4 linked regions of the Homo sapiens genome follow. The protein of the gene in region 3 interacts with the protein of the main gene of each other region in a pairwise test. Each region holds a gene or a part of one and is shown on either strand. Other genes may lie near its edges.

Region 1 (3,587 bases), on a different chromosome or scaffold from region 3:
TGTTATTCAAATGGGCATTTGGTCGTACTGCTTCTTTCTCTCGCCTTCAAACTGGAATACCCTATCTTTTATATCCTCATAAAAATTCTATCCTTCCTTCAAGGCCCATCTCATGTCACATCCTGATTCATCTGTTAGTGCTCTGATTTGAATTCCTGTAGTATTTTGTATCTTAATTATAGCACTCAGTATCTCATCTTGTATGCTTATCGTATTCTAGATAGCTATTTCAGATGAGGGCGGCAAACACTGTGTGTAGGGGCAATCAAATATTTGTCAAATTGTCAGGACCTTTCTTGTGTTGCCTTAACTACACTATTGTTAGCTATAATTTGGGGTTGATGAATTTTAAAACAAACCCTGAATGAAATTTGTGTCCTGCCAAACCTTTAGGATATACCTGCTTATGGCTTTTGGATGTACAATTTAAGCCAAAACAGGATGGGTTACATTGGTGAAGTTTACTTTTTGCTTCTGAAATAACATCTAGAATGTTAGTTTGTAGAATAAACATTTTCTAAGAATTTTTTTACATTTTTTACCTGTAAATGCAACTCTTTTTACAATTCTTCATTTCCTTTGGAAGGAGTCCAAAACTACTTACCTGGAAGACCTTCCACCACCCCCTGAGTATGAATTGGCCCCGTCCAAGTTAGAAGAGGAAGTGGATGATGTCTTTCTCATTCGAGCTCAAGGACTGCCCTGGTCATGCACTATGGAAGATGTGCTTAACTTTTTTTCAGGTATATTTTATGTATGTTTTATTTATTTATTTTTTTTCCTTATATTGTTTCTCACAAGCAGGTATGTATGTTTTAAGTATGTAATTTTGTCTGAGTAAAAGGTAGTGCTACAAATCCATGTCAGACTACGCTGTCACCTTCCTTTTTGATGGTTGGGAACTGTCTCATTCTGGTTGGTTGCATATACCAAATGATACCATGTGTGCTGTTTGCGGTATGTAACGAATTGAAAGACTTTGGGCCAGGGGCAGTGGCTCAGGCCTGTAATCAGCAGTTTGGGAGGCCAAGGTGGAAGGATGGCTTGAGGCCAGTAGTTCCATACCACACTGGGCAACACTGTGAGACTGTCTCAATTTACATATGTATAAAGACTTTGAATGCAACAAAAGTATTTTAACGTTAAGACTGCATAGTATGGGCCAGGCGCAGTGGCTCACGCCTGTAATCCCAGCACTTTGGGAGGCCGAGGCGGGCGGATCACAAGCTCAGGAGATCGAGACCATCCTGGCTAACATAGTGAAACCCCGTCTCTACTAAAAATACAAAAATTACCCAGGCTTGTAGTCCCAGCTACTTGGGAGGCTGAGGCAGGAGAATGGTGTGAATCCGGGAGGTGGAGCTTGCAGTGAGCCGAGATGGTGCCACTGCATTCCAGCCTGGGCGACAGAGTGAGACTCTGTCTCAAAAAAAAAAAAAAATCCATCATACTATGTAGGTTTTTTTTTTTTTGAGACGGAGTCTCGCTCTGTCGCCAGGCTGGAGTGCAGTGGCATGATCTCAGCTCACTGCAAGCTCCGCCTCCCGGGTTCACACCATTCTCCTGCCTCAGCCTCCCTAGTAGCGACTGCCACCACACCCAGTTAATTTTTTGTATTTTTAGTAGAGCTGGGGTTTCACCGTGTTAGCCAGGATGATCTCAATCTCCTGACCTTGTGATCTGCCTGCCTCGGCTTCCCACAGTGCTGGGATTACAGGCGTGAGCCACCGTGCCCGGCTGGTATGATGGAATACTACGTAGCCATAACAAAGAGTGAGATTATGTGCTTTGCAGCAATGTGGGTGGTGCTGGAGACCATTATCCTAAGCAAACTAACATGGAACATTAAACTTAATACTGTATGTTTTCACTTACAAGTGGGAGCTAAACAATGAGAACACATGGACACAAAGAGGGGAACAAGAAGACACCAGGGCCAACTTGAGGGTTGGGGAGAAGATTAAAAAATACCTATCGGGTCCAAGTGCGGTGGCTCACGCCTGTAATCCCAGCACTTTGGGAGGCCGAGGCGGGCGGATCACGAGGTCAGGAGATCGAGACCATCCTGGCTAACATGTTGAAACCCCATCTCTCCTAAAAATACAAAAAAAATTAGCCGGGCGTGGTGGCACGCTCCCGTAGTCCCAGCTACCTGGGAGGCTGAGGCAGGAGAATCGCTTGAATCTGGGAGGCGGAGGTTGCAGTGAGCTGAGTTCACACCACTGTACTCCAGCCGTGGTGACAGAGAGAGACTCTGTCTCAAAAAGAAAAATAAAACCTATTGGGTACTGTGCTTGCTACCTGGGTAACTAAATTATCTGTATACCGAACTCCCATAACACATGGTTTACCTATGTAGCAGTCCTATACATGTACTAAATAAAAGTTGAAAAACAAAATTACATGGTTTGAAATTATTTTTCTCTGTGGTATTAATATATACATATCAAAAAGTCAAGCCTGTCAGTGGAAATATGGAATTAAGGGTGACTCTTTATGTAATACAGACATTTACAATAGAAGGTCACTTAGTATCAAGGAATAAAGTTCCCTTAATAACATGTTTGGAGGGTTTACATATCTGTGGGATTTTTTTTTTTAGTTTCTGTATCTGACTATGATTTATTTTTATTAATTTTTTTGAGATGGAGTCTTGCTCTGTCACCCAGGCTGGAGTGCAGTAGCGCAATCTCGGCTCATTGCAACCTCCACCTCCCGGGTTCAAGGGATTCTCCTGCCTCAGCCTCCTGAGTTGGTGGGACAGCAGGCACCTATCACCATGCCCGGCTAATTTTTGTATTTTTAGTAGAGACAGGGTTTTGCCGTGTTGGCCAGGTTGGTCTCAAACTCCTGACCTCAGGTGATCCACCACCTTGGCCTCCCAAAGGGCTGGGATTACAGGCATGAACCACCATGCCTGGCTATTTCATTAATTTTTTTAGCTGCTCCTTGTGGAGCAGGAGTAAATCCTAGGCAGTATGCCCAGAGTGAGCCTGGTCAAACTTTTTTTTAAAGCCACTTGGCCACTTACATCTTGGACTACTCCCATTATAAAAAGTATGCAGTATGAAAAGGGGAAAAAGGCTGGGTGTGGTGGCTGATGCCTGTAATCCCAGCACTTTGGGAGACTAAGGTGGGAGGATTACTTAAGCCCAAGAGTTCAAGACCAGCCTGTGCAACAAAATGAGACCGCCTCTCTACAAAAACAAAAAGTTAAACTATGGTAATAAAATTACTCATACAGGAAATATTTTAGAGACCTATGGAGATGATTTTAAAGGAAGACACTTATGTATAAATTTAACTATATTGTATTTCCTTAAGTGATTGTAGAAACATTGCAATAGAAATAATGAATTTTGTGTTGGGCCTATCCTGATTTGCTATTTAATGATCAGGAAGGAGATCATAAGCTTCTGTGCTAAGGTTTGCTTATCTTTTCTACTTGGAAGGTTTTAGAGACTAAATCCTTATTGGTGTTTGGATGACTTCAGTGATGGGGATTTGTGTAAGGAATATGACACTTGTTTCCTGCTTTGTTGTTGGAAAACTGCATTCTTGTGACTTACATAATTGAGCTAAAAGTT
Region 2 (3,587 bases), on a different chromosome or scaffold from region 3:
CCATCAGCAGCTGACCTACTGTGTCCCCATGGCTCCTGGGTCGGGGTCACAGATGCACTGCATCTTTGGAGGCGGAGCTGGCAGAGCAGGGGCGAGTCACTTCTAGTTTCTGCCTGGGTTCTTACACCCTCCCCTGTGGGTGCTTTTAAGCCTGTTTGTCAGGTCCCCAGCCATCAAATGGCAGACTTTGGACTACCAGATTGACTTGGGTGGGGGTGAGGAGGGTTCCAGTGTCTCCCCGTGCTGAGGAGAGGCCCGCTGGGTGAGTTGACAGGTTGGGGCTGGCAGCCAGGGGCCCCTTTGTTCTTCACTTCCCCGGCAGTTGCACGTCTTATCCTCTCTCCATCTCCAACAGAAAGACAACGTGGAGATGATCAAGGCCCTCATCGTGTTCGGAGCAGAAGTGGACACCCCGAATGACTTTGGGGAGACTCCTACATTCCTAGCCTCCAAAATCGGCAGACGTATGTGCTCTGCACTCTGGGGCTGGAGTGGGGTGAGGGTTGGGTGGATACAGGGACCGAGGAGGAGGGAAGTCCCAGGCATCAGGTGCCAGCATCCTGTGCTGACCCGCCCTGCTCAGAGCTGCCAGGAGCACCTCGTACTCAGAGAGGGGGCTTCCTTACCCAAGCACAAGGGCCCTGAGCAGTAGATGCAGGCCCACCACGGGGCTTGCTATACCAGCATCCTCTCCCGTGCAGCGCCCCCCACCTCAGGGAGCTAAGATTCCCAGCAGGGGTGGGGACAGGAGAGCCAGCAGCAGCCTTCTTTCCCCACCGTTGGGGAATTCACTGATGGAACCACTGGCTAGAATGACCAAGGGTGCATGCACTACACTGCACGAGCTCTGGGCATGCCTGTGTGGGCAGAGTGCATGGCCATGTGCTGCACGCTCGCACAGTGAGCCTTAGCTTCAGAGCTGGACAGAGCAGATCCTCCTCACCAGAGGCCTGGAGCCCGCTCTGGAGGGTTTCAGCAGCTGTGGGGGTCACTGTGGGCAGGTACCTGATGGCAGCAGTGTGTGTGTGCCAGTGCACACGTGTGTGTCTGCATGCACCGCATCTATGACCTCCTTTTCAGCAATCCCATCCATCAAATGGAGTAGGTGCCCCCTGGCTGGCTCATTAGTCCCTTTGGAACCCTGAACTATCACTTAGCATTTTTGAGAATCACTGAATGTGGCCATGGGATTCCTGCTTTCTTGGCTGGAGTAGAAGGAAAGAAGGGGTTCCCACAGGCATCGGGCAGGGTGACACTGACCTCCTCCTCCCATATCCTCCTTCCCTGGCCTTAGGAAGCTGCTTGGGATGTACCAGCCTGGGGGCAGCACTCCCTGTCAGGGTGGGCTGAGGCCTCTGGAGCAGCCCACGTGCCCAGGGCCTGGGAGCTGGGACAGGGGACGGAGTGTGGAAAGGAGGGGCCTCTCCTTTGCATGTTGACATCATTTCTGATCCTGTGCCATCTCCCCTTCCCCAAACCATGACAAGTTGTCACCAGGAAGGCGATCTTGACTCTGCTGAGAACCGTGGGGGCCGAATACTGCTTCCCACCCATCCACGGGGTCCCCGCGGAGCAGGGCTCTGCAGCGCCACATCATCCCTTCTCCCTGGAAAGAGCTCAGCCCCCACCGATCAGCCTAAACAACCTAGGTAGGCCTCGCCTCCCGACTCCCTCTTCTCCAGCTGGTTCCCAGGCCCCTGGATCACAGCAGGCCCCACCAAAGCAACAGGATCCCTAGGACGGAAGTCACTAAAGGAAGCCGGGGAGGATGGGGCCGGAGTTGTCAGCCTCTAGGCAGCCAGCAACCCACAGATCCCAGAGGCCTAGGGTGTCCCTGGCTGATGTCCCATGCTCCGTTGCCCCTGAGAGGATGTGTCCTGCACACAGTCTCAGGCCTGGGCATTTCCAGTGGCACCCATGAGGTGGCTGCTGTTACTGCCCTCCTGTCCCCAGGGCGTTCAGGGTGGGCAGTGAGGAGTGCTGTCGGGGGACTGGGGGCCCGGGCCCTCTGGCTTCACCTGTCCCTCTGGCTTCACCTCTATCACACTGTTTGAATCTCGGTTGGGCCTGAGACCTGTGTGCCCCCTTCCTGGCCCCGTGGTGACTTTCAGACGTTGAATGTGGCCAGGCAGCCAGCATCTGCCCCGGTGCATTCCTTGGTGCCCAGGGAGACATCCCCAGACTAGACAGGACCCTTCTCTGGACTTTCTGTGGGCTGGCCCACTCAGGGACCTCCATTGTTTGGGAGCGGGGTCCCCTGAACAGAGGGCAGCCAGGAGCCAGTCCTTGGTGAGCCAGACTTCACTGTGGAGGCGGCAGCACCTTCAGCCAGGGTAGCCCGACCAAGCCTGGAACTCTGGAGAGGCACCGTGACTGTGGCTTCTAGTCCTGGCTCCACCTCTCTCTCCCCTCCCAGGAACTCCCCCTCCACCTCCCATCTTTATCTCTCAATTTTGCAGGCAGTCACCCAAGCCAGGCCGGATGGTGGGCCTGGGGTGCGGCGTCAGATGGGTAACGCCCTGGGCCTGGAGAGGCCACCGAGCCTAGCCATGCGGCATTAGCTCTAGCTCTCACTCCCTAATCCGTCCTTCTTAGCTGCGCACACACCACACGCCCCCTCCCCTGCACCCTGTCCCCGGCCTCTCTCAGCCACTCTTCTGCTTCCCTTGTTCACTGTGGAGCCGTGTGCCCTGGGGAGGGGGAGACACCGCTTCGCAGCCCTCGGTTCTGCTTTGCTGCTTCTAGACTCTGCACAGTGGTGGGGGGCTGTCAGAGTTGGGGTCACGCGGGCTGCTGCACCAGGCACCTGGGGACTGGGCTGCTTGTCAGGAGGGGCAGCTAGTCAGTTGGGTGGACGTCAGGCAGGCCTTGGACACAAAGGAAGACATGGACAGAGTGGATGGTGGGCCTGATCCCGGAGGCCACTGGGATTTCCAGACCTGGGATCAGGACGAGGGATGTCTCCTTTCATCCATGGACTTAAACCCCGAGGAACGTCCTGACTCAGCCTTTTGACTAAATGACCTTGGGTGAATTATGGACCCTCTTAGAGCCTCACCTGTCAATAGGGAATAAGAATTCTTAGGCCCCAGGTGGTTATTGCAGCATCGGCTCCGATGCAAGAAGAAGCACTTTGTCTGAAGAGGACACGCAAGGGTATTCATGCCTTGGGGTTTCAAGAGGAAGAGATTGAGGGGAACCTGGGAGCTGGCTGGGCAGGGTGGGGAGCCCTTCCCAGAGCAGTGGGCCCCCCTTTCCACTCCAGCCCATTTCTCTCCTGTGGCCTGTGGCTCAGCTTTCTCCTGGGACAGAGTCCTTCCTGTGGGGAAGGGACAGATGACAGGGGGAGTGGGGGGATGAGGGCGTGGCCGTGGGCGAGGCACAGCCCAGGTTTGATCTAGGGACCTCTGGGGTAGCAGGGCTTGGGGACCCACCTGACCACAGCATGCCCTGCTCTGTGCCTCACAGAACTACAGGATCTCATGCACATCTCACGGGCCCGGAAGCCAGCGTTCATCCTGGGCTCCATGAGGGACGAGAAGCGGACGTAAGTGGATCGAGATCGGGGGCAGAGCGGGGAACGTGTG
Region 3 (3,500 bases):
GGAGTTGGGGGTGGATAACTGCATTTGGAGACATGGTGGGTGTGACAGTTATGTGCTTGAGAGGAGATGCACCAGTGGTGCCTGGAAACTCACGGTTGGAGTTTGAGTGCACGGGGGCAGGTGTGGATTTGACAGTCATTGCCATTGAGTCTTCAAGGGCAGTGGTGAGACACACACTGTGAAGTAGGGAATTTAGAGCAATATTAAAATTAACAAGTTATTAAAAATTATGTAAGATCACATATACTCATGGAAAAGAATTTGCCCTGACAAGGGAATCAAATGAAAAGTAGAAAAGTCTCCCAACTCTCACCTTGGTAATGCTAGGTTGTTTCTTGCTAAGTCAGTGCTTTGTTTCTTGCTATTCCTTCTAAAAAACTGTGAGTCAACCTTAAGTATACAGCTTAGGGAATTTTTACACATTTATTCACTTATGTGACCACTGTCCATATTGAAATATAAAGCATTTCTGGTACTTTGGTCAGCTCAGATCACCATAATAAAATATCAAAATATCTGTTGTTCTGGCTTAAACAGAAATTTATTTCCTCACAGTTTTGGAGGCTGGAAGTCCGAGATCAGGATGCCAGCATAGTTGGGTTCTGGTGAGGGCCCTCTTCCTCGCTGCTCAGTGTGTAGTCAAGACCTTTCTTTGATGTGTATGTGTGGGGAGAGGTAGGTGGAGGAAAGCAAGCTTTCTGGTGTGTCTAAGGGCACTTATCCCATCCTGAAGACCCCACCCACGTCACCTCATCTGAGTCTAATTACTTCCCAAAGACCCCATCTCCAAATAGCATCACATTGTGGGGTAGGGCTTCAACACAGGAATTCTGAGAGAATACAGTTCAGTCCTTAGTACCCGAAAAGCTCTGCTGTGCTTTCTCCCAATCAGCACTCCCCCTACACTCCCAAGGATAACCAGTATTCTGATCTTTAGTCCCATAGATTCATTTTTTCTGTTTTTAAGATCCATATAAATGGAGTCATACGGTGCTTTTTTTTTTTTCTTTTTGTATCTGGCTTCTTCAGCTCATTGTGATGTCTGTGAAATTCATCCATGTTCTGTGTAGTCTGTAGTTTCTTTTCCATTGCTGTGTGTGGTATACCAAGGTATGAATATACTGCCATAAAAAGCCCAAGTGGGATAATTCTGTAAATGCAATGGTTTTAAAATTATAATGGTAGGGACCCAGACTTTTGTTAGAATCCGCACACCTTCTGCCTCCCAAGTTGTGACAACCAAAAATGTCTCTAGCTATTGCTGAATGTCCCCTGTGGGGCAAAGTTGAGTAGCATTGGTTTAGAGAGAAGAGCCAGAGCCAGAGCCAAAGCCACAGGCCCTTTGGGGCCGACTTGGTGATCTGCCCCTGTTTATGCTAGTTGTAAGACAGAACTAGTATCATTCCTAAGGTTCTCTGTAGAGATAATTTCCATCACCACTAAAATGGGGCTGTTTCCCAGGAAGCATCAAGTAAGTTTAAAGACCGAATTAAAACATCTCACATTTGTAAATTCTTTAAGGTGAGCAGGCCCTTAGAGATCACCTGAGCAACCCCCTCATCCAGAGACGATCCAGCCCCAGGGTCAGAGGGCTGGCGTGGGATGGAGCCAAGCTGTAGTCCACAGCACTTTCTTCCCAGCTGGGCCTTCTGCTGGACAGCCAAGAGTTTATCAGAAAGTTACTATGTGGATAATTTATTTTTCTTTGTGATGCCAGGTTATTACTTCTCTTTGCTCATTGAAGAGGAAATAATACAAGTGATATTTTATGTATCAGGAAAGCTGATACTACCCATTCCTTATTGCAAACATTGAGTCACTGAGGGCAGTACTGCTACTAAATCACCCAAGTCTTTTTCTTCTGTCTAGGTTAATTTATTTTAGGTCTTTGTTTTCTCCAGAACTCTACCTTTTGAATAATGATAAGGTCTCTTTTACTTAGTCTCACAGGGCTGTAAAGAACTTTCCAACAATTTTTTTTTCCCTCTCCTCTCTCTTCCAGAGGCATCTGAAACAATGATGTCTGTCAAGATTTAATTTTTTTGGGGTTGTTGTTGTAATTGACAGCTGACAGATAATAGTAAAAAGTGGAATGATATTGTCATCTAGCTAGTTTATGTATTCAAAAGAGAGGAGAACAGAATCAGTATTAAACTTTTGATACCTTGGGTGGAGGTTTTTCTCATCAATCTTGGATGAGAAAAGAAAGAATCATTCACAAGAATGTTGAACACCATTCTTGTGTTTTACTCCTGTCATAGTCTGATTAATAAGGTTTGAGGGCAGAGTTTCTGCTTAAAATTAAATGCTAAATTTCTTTTTTTTTTTTTTTTGCACCGCCCTTAATCCATTTAATCCTGAGTGGACAACACAGCACATGTTTCAGAGAGCACAGGGTTGGGGGTAAGGTCACAGATCAACAGGATCCCAAGGCAGAGGAATTTTTCTTAGTGCAGAACAAAATGAAAAGTCTCCCATGTCTACTTCTTTCTACACAGACACGGCAACCATCCGATTTCTCAATCTTTTCCCCACCTTTCCCGCCTTTCTATTCCACAAAGCCGCCATTGTCATCCTGGCCCGTTCTCAATGAGCTGTTGGGCACACCTCCCAGACGGGGTGGTGGCCGGGCAGAGGGGCTCCTCACTTCCCAGTAGGGGCGGCCGGGCAGAGGCGCCCCTCACCTCCCGGACGGGGCGGCTGGCCGGGCAGGGGGGCTGACCCCCCCCACCTCCCTCCCGGACGGGGCGGCTGGCCGGGCGGGGGGCTGACCCCCCAACCTCCCTCCCGGACGGGGCGGCTGGCCGGGCAGAGGGGCTCCTCACTTCCCAGTAGGGGCGGCCGGGCAGAGGCACCCCTCACCTCCCGGACGGGGCGGCTGGCCGGGCGGGGGGGCTGACCCCCCCCCACCTCCCTCCCGGACGGGGCGGCTGGCCGGGCGGGGGGCTGACCCCCCCACCTCCCTCCCGGATGGGGCGGCTGGCCGGGCGGGGGGCCGACATCCCCACCTCCCTCCCGGACGGGGCGGCTGGCCGGGCGGAGGGCTGACCCCCCCACCTCCCTCCCGGACGGGGCGGCTGGCCGGGCGGGGGGCCGACCCCCCCACCTCCCTCCCGGACGGGGCGGCTGGCCGGGCAGAGGGGCTCCTCACTTCCCAGTAGGGGCGGCCGGGCAGAGGCGCCCCTCACCTCCCAGACGGGGCGGCTGGCCGGGCGGAGGGCTCACCCCCCGACCTCCCTCCCGGACGGGGCGGCTGGCCAGGCGGGGGGCTGACCCCCCCACCTCCCTCCCGGACGGGGCGGCTGGCCGGGCGGGGGGCCGACCCCCCCCACCTCCCTCCCGGACGGGGCGGCTGGCCGGGCAGAGGGGCTCCTCACTTCCCAGTAGGGGCGGCGGGGCAGAGGCGCCCCTCACCTCCCAGACGGGGCGGCTGGCCGGGCGGAGGGCTCACCCCCCCACCTCCCTCCCGGACGGGGCGGCTGGCCAGGCGGGGGGCTGAC
Region 4 (4,314 bases), on a different chromosome or scaffold from region 3:
AGGTCAAGGTTCCATTATTACATCAGCCTTTGGTTTTTAGACGCAGTGAAAGTAAGTGGCTAACGAGCTGGTATTAATCCCTGTGGGAGAAAAAGCATCATCATTTGAAACAAAGAAAAAAAAGTCTAAAGCTATAACAGGAAGTAAAAGAAAAGAGAAAGGAGAAGTCGCAAGTAAGCCATGGCAGCTCATCAGAACTTCCGGATCCAGCCAGGTTTCCCACAGGAACCCCTCAAGATGCGAAGCGTTCTTTCACCGACACCTTCTAAGGCTAACTTTTTCTCCTCCCCGTTCTTGTTCTTACCGGGCTCCTGACACAATTAGCATAAGAGTAGCCCTCAAAGCAGGTAACAGACTCTTCAGAAAGAGGGCATGTTGCAGTGATGTCCACACCCTGCTCTCCCCCAGAAGATGGGGGCAGGGGGGTGGGGGGGATAGCTTGTCATTGTCGTTCATCCACCATGCTCAGGACGGTCAGGCAGGGGTGCAGGTTCATCCTCCTTTCCCTCAGCCGGCTTTAGTTTCGGGTACTTCTCCTGCAAGCAAGTTCTGCCTGCTCCCCACCAGTGCAGTGCCACGGGACCCCTAGAAGGAGGTCTCACCCTGGCTCCTGGCTCCTTCAGGGCGCGCTGCAATGCAGCTTCTGCAGACTGGGGCTCACCCCCCGCCTTGCTTTCTAAAGTGTAATGTTATGATTTCTGCCATAAGGGGCGCATCCATACAGCCAGGATTCCCTTGGGATGGGGGTCCTGATCTTTGCTCCAGCACAGTGAGAGGAGGGGAAGCGGGTATGAGGAGGCCCCCCGGAGCTGCCATCCAGCTGGGGACTTGCCTACGCAGGAAAGTTTGTCTTCTCCTGCCACGGACCCAGTGCACCCACCTAGCTCCCTCTACCAGGCTCAGGCAGGTACTGAGTGTTCCGTTGGCTCTGCCTTCCCTGCTGAGCACAGCCCCCAGGCTGGACCCCCTAGGATGCTGCTGGAATCTGGAATAACAACAACAGCAACCCCCACTCTGAACTTCTTGGTCAGCCTAAAACAAACAGCTGGGAACATGGTTATGCAGAGCCCATCCCTGCTTTAAAAAGTGCCATCTTCACAAGGTGTTACAAAACATTACAGGCTGGATTACTTGTTTTAGTTGATCCTCTCTTCTTTCTCCCCAGTAAACTTCCATTTTTCTGATTTCACTTTGGCATCTTAGGACTACTCAGGGAATTATATTATTAAAAACAACACTGAAAATATTCCCACAAAACCCTACCAAGTAATACTGAATATAGAAACATAAAACTGTATGTTTTACCTATAAAAAGGCAGGTAAGGTTTTAAAATCTTAGCATTCCTGTCTGTGTATATATGTATGAAAATTTAGGTTTAAGCTAATGTTTAACACAATGCATTTATCTCAATTTGGGGGAAAAAAAGAGATCCTGACTGTGCGACGGTTTGGTATGAAAACCGACACTTTTGCTGCTGCCTAAAACCTTGGCAAGCATAACCTAGCCCCTTCGGCATTGTTTGAAAGATGCCTGCAGGCATTCAGTTGTCTGCTTGCAAAGGACTCCTGTGCAATTATCAAATCTATTAAGATGCCTTCAATTTTGCAACGCTTCTGCTAAGCTCATTTTGGTAGGATTGCAGCATCTTACCTGTGTCACTGCAGATTTGTTTTCCCCAAACAAATAACTGCTGTGAGAGGTGGGATCACATTTAAATCATTAGACAAGGTGGGGAAGGGGCTGGGGAGAATCAGGCAAATCCAAATTTCCAACCTTCCCTCAGCAGGGACATCCCAAATTCTGCCAAGGGAAATTCATATTCCTGACGTAAGGAACAGGAAGGAGATACTGAGAGGATTCCGAATTTCAAGGGCATAATCTGCCCATTTGGTGGAAGGATAAAGAAAGGACGGCAGGCAGTAGAGGGCCTGTGTTACAACAAGAAATGCAGGAGCAGATGAGTGAGCTGAGAAGGAGGGATGGGGCAGGGAAGGAGCTCCAGGGGGAGAGGGTAGGGGAGAGCAGTTCCGAAGGAAGGGAGGGAGGAGGAGAGTGGGGAGAGGTGGAGAGGGAGAGAGAGAGAGAGAGAGAGAGAGAGAAAAGAAACAGAGAGAGAGACAGGGAGGCGCAGAGATCTGGACTGATTCAGAAACAGAGAGAGACCACCACGACTGAGAGAGATAAGAGGGTGCCCCTTCCACCCTGCAGGTCCCAACATAGGCAGCAAGAAGGATTTATGGCTGGGAGTTCAAACCCCTCTTCTCCTACCCCCAGGACCACAGCTGGTTAATGCCAGTTGGTGACTTTCACTGAAACAGCAGTGCCTCACAGCATGGTGCAGATCTCGAACCCAGCTCACTGGATCCCCCGGAACAGAGAGCAAATCCCGTGCTGAAAGCATCTGCGCGCGTGTGAGCGAGTGAGTGTGTGTGTGCGTGCACACAGCAAGCCTACCTCTTTCACTCACATGCATCTCACACTCCCTGTCCTCACCCCTTCCTCCTTGCCTCTCCATCTCCCCACTGCCTCTCCTGCTCTCACGTCGTACAATCACCCCAGGGAGAGAAAACACCCTTCCCCTGTACGGTACCTGGGATGAAGAGCAGGGCAGTTGTCGCCGAGAAGACGACCCAGTAGGCAGGATGGTACATCTCGACGCTGCGGTGCTCTCAGCTGCCGGGCTTGCTACTGCTTCTGCTGCTGCTACCGCTGCTGCCTTCCTCTGTGCTGAATTCTGAGCAGGTTTAAATCCAATGTTTGCAAAGGGAGGGAGAGAGCAGAAGAGAGAGAGAGCGCGCGAGAGATGGGAGCAGGCAGGCAGCGTCTCTGATTTCTTTTCTTGCACACAACTGGTAAGAATCATCAGCACCAATCTGCACAGGGCTCAGAGCAGTCCTCCAAGGCACGCATTGGCTCCACTCTCCTGAGCGACGGAAGGAGACTTTCCTGCTTGGAAGGCTTGACTCCAAGGGGAGTCGAAGCCGGCCCCTCACTCACCCCCTCACCGGAGCACAGCCCTGCGTGTTGCTATCTGTGTGAGTATGTTGATGTGGGGCTCACGTGGACACGTGAACACACACGAGCTCCTTGGTGGGCAGTGGAGAGGGCCTGGCACTGCCAGCAGGGCTCAGGGCACACCAAGAAAGAAAGGTTGCTTGGCAGAAATGTGACTAATGCCCATGCCAGTTCCTTATCATTCTTCCTTCTTCCTAGTCTCCAGGCAGGGATGGAGCAGGAACTGCTACCCACGGGGAGAGCTCAGACATTTAAATCTGCACCCTACCCCTCCATTCGGCCATTAACAGCATTTGGAAGCAGTTGGTTTTCCCAGTAAGGAGATGGGCATGTTACGGTTTTAAACCAATGATGCAGGGAGAATTGGCCAGTTCCCCACAATCAGAGCATTCTGAAACTCTACCAAGGCAAGATGCTATAGAAGCTCAAACAATTGCTATGATTACAGCATAGGCAGGGACAGATTCAGATTAGATCTCAAGGAGGCGGAAACTTGCTGAAGTCATCGGAAATCTTCACAAGGAGAAGGCCACAGAAGGATACCTGTGGCTTCCTTCTGTTTTTTTTTTTTCTGCTTCTCCTTTTCAGGGTCCAGTCTGTCCCTTCCTCTGGAATGGCAGTTTACACCGGCAGTTTACACAGGATGGCAGTATCTCTGGGTGTAAGAAACCTCAGAACTTTCCCCTGCTCTAAAACGGCCTGCTTGCCCTCCCTAACACGTGCTTGTAAGCAGCACACCTTGCTGGCTGAGTGGTGCTGCCACTGAACTATACCCTGAACTTGGAGGGTCTGTGATCAAAATAGCACCAAGTATTAGAGAAGGGACTCAGCAGACGATTTCTGTCCCAGGTGCTCTCCGAAGACCTCAAGTGGCTTGGATTCCTTCCCAGCTCCACGTGTCCACACCTTGAGGTCTGTGAGGGACACTCCACAGGAGGTCTTTCTCCCTTCCTCCTTTGCTGCAATTCCCAAAGTTTTCCCAAGTGACCTACTATGGGCAGGTATTCACCTCTATCACTTTAGTTAATCCTCACCAGCGTCCTTCCTTGTAGGCATTATGACCCCTGAATTTTCAACTGAGGTTGACAGCGATTCAGTGACTTGCCACACAGCTAATGAGTTAAGATAAAAACCCAGGTCTGTCCTGCAAAATCCACACAGTTTTTATAAAGCAGCCAATTGCCAACAAGTTCTTTGGGCCTGACTGAGCGCCTCTCTTTCTATAAAATAAATCATGTTTACTTTTAAAGAAGTAAAACAATTGATTACTCCCCTCCTTATGAACAAGTCAGAAAACT

What was found.
Region 1: the proteins of NUP93 (region 3) and GRSF1 interact in a two-hybrid assay, tested with the Homo sapiens proteins (one study listed by BioGRID).
Region 2: the proteins of NUP93 (region 3) and PLA2G6 interact in binary tests that used the Homo sapiens proteins (3 or more experiments, as listed by UniProt).
Region 4: the proteins of NUP93 (region 3) and OPCML interact in binary tests that used the Homo sapiens proteins (3 or more experiments, as listed by UniProt).

What each region holds. Positions count from the first base shown.
Region 1 is NC_000004.12:70,833,314-70,836,900, reverse strand, and holds part of GRSF1 (G-rich sequence factor 1), read left to right. Parts: intron 1-586; coding exon 587-743; intron 744-3,587. UniProt on the Homo sapiens protein: Regulator of post-transcriptional mitochondrial gene expression, required for assembly of the mitochondrial ribosome and for recruitment of mRNA and lncRNA. Binds RNAs containing the 14 base G-rich element.
Region 2 is NC_000022.11:38,126,331-38,129,917, reverse strand, and holds part of PLA2G6 (85/88 kDa calcium-independent phospholipase A2), read left to right. Parts: intron 1-355; coding exon 356-464; intron 465-1,487; coding exon 1,488-1,649; intron 1,650-3,468; coding exon 3,469-3,547; intron 3,548-3,587. UniProt on the Homo sapiens protein: Calcium-independent phospholipase involved in phospholipid remodeling with implications in cellular membrane homeostasis, mitochondrial integrity and signal transduction.
Region 3 is NC_000016.10:56,736,629-56,740,128, forward strand, and holds part of NUP93 (nuclear pore complex protein Nup93), read left to right. Parts: intron 1-3,500. UniProt on the Homo sapiens protein: Plays a role in the nuclear pore complex (NPC) assembly and/or maintenance. May anchor nucleoporins, but not NUP153 and TPR, to the NPC. During renal development, regulates podocyte migration and proliferation through SMAD4 signaling.
Region 4 is NC_000011.10:133,529,673-133,533,986, forward strand, and holds the start of OPCML (opioid-binding protein/cell adhesion molecule isoform b precursor), read right to left. Parts: upstream 2,830-4,314; 5' UTR 2,653-2,829; coding exon 2,592-2,652; intron 1-2,591. UniProt on the Homo sapiens protein: Binds opioids in the presence of acidic lipids; probably involved in cell contact.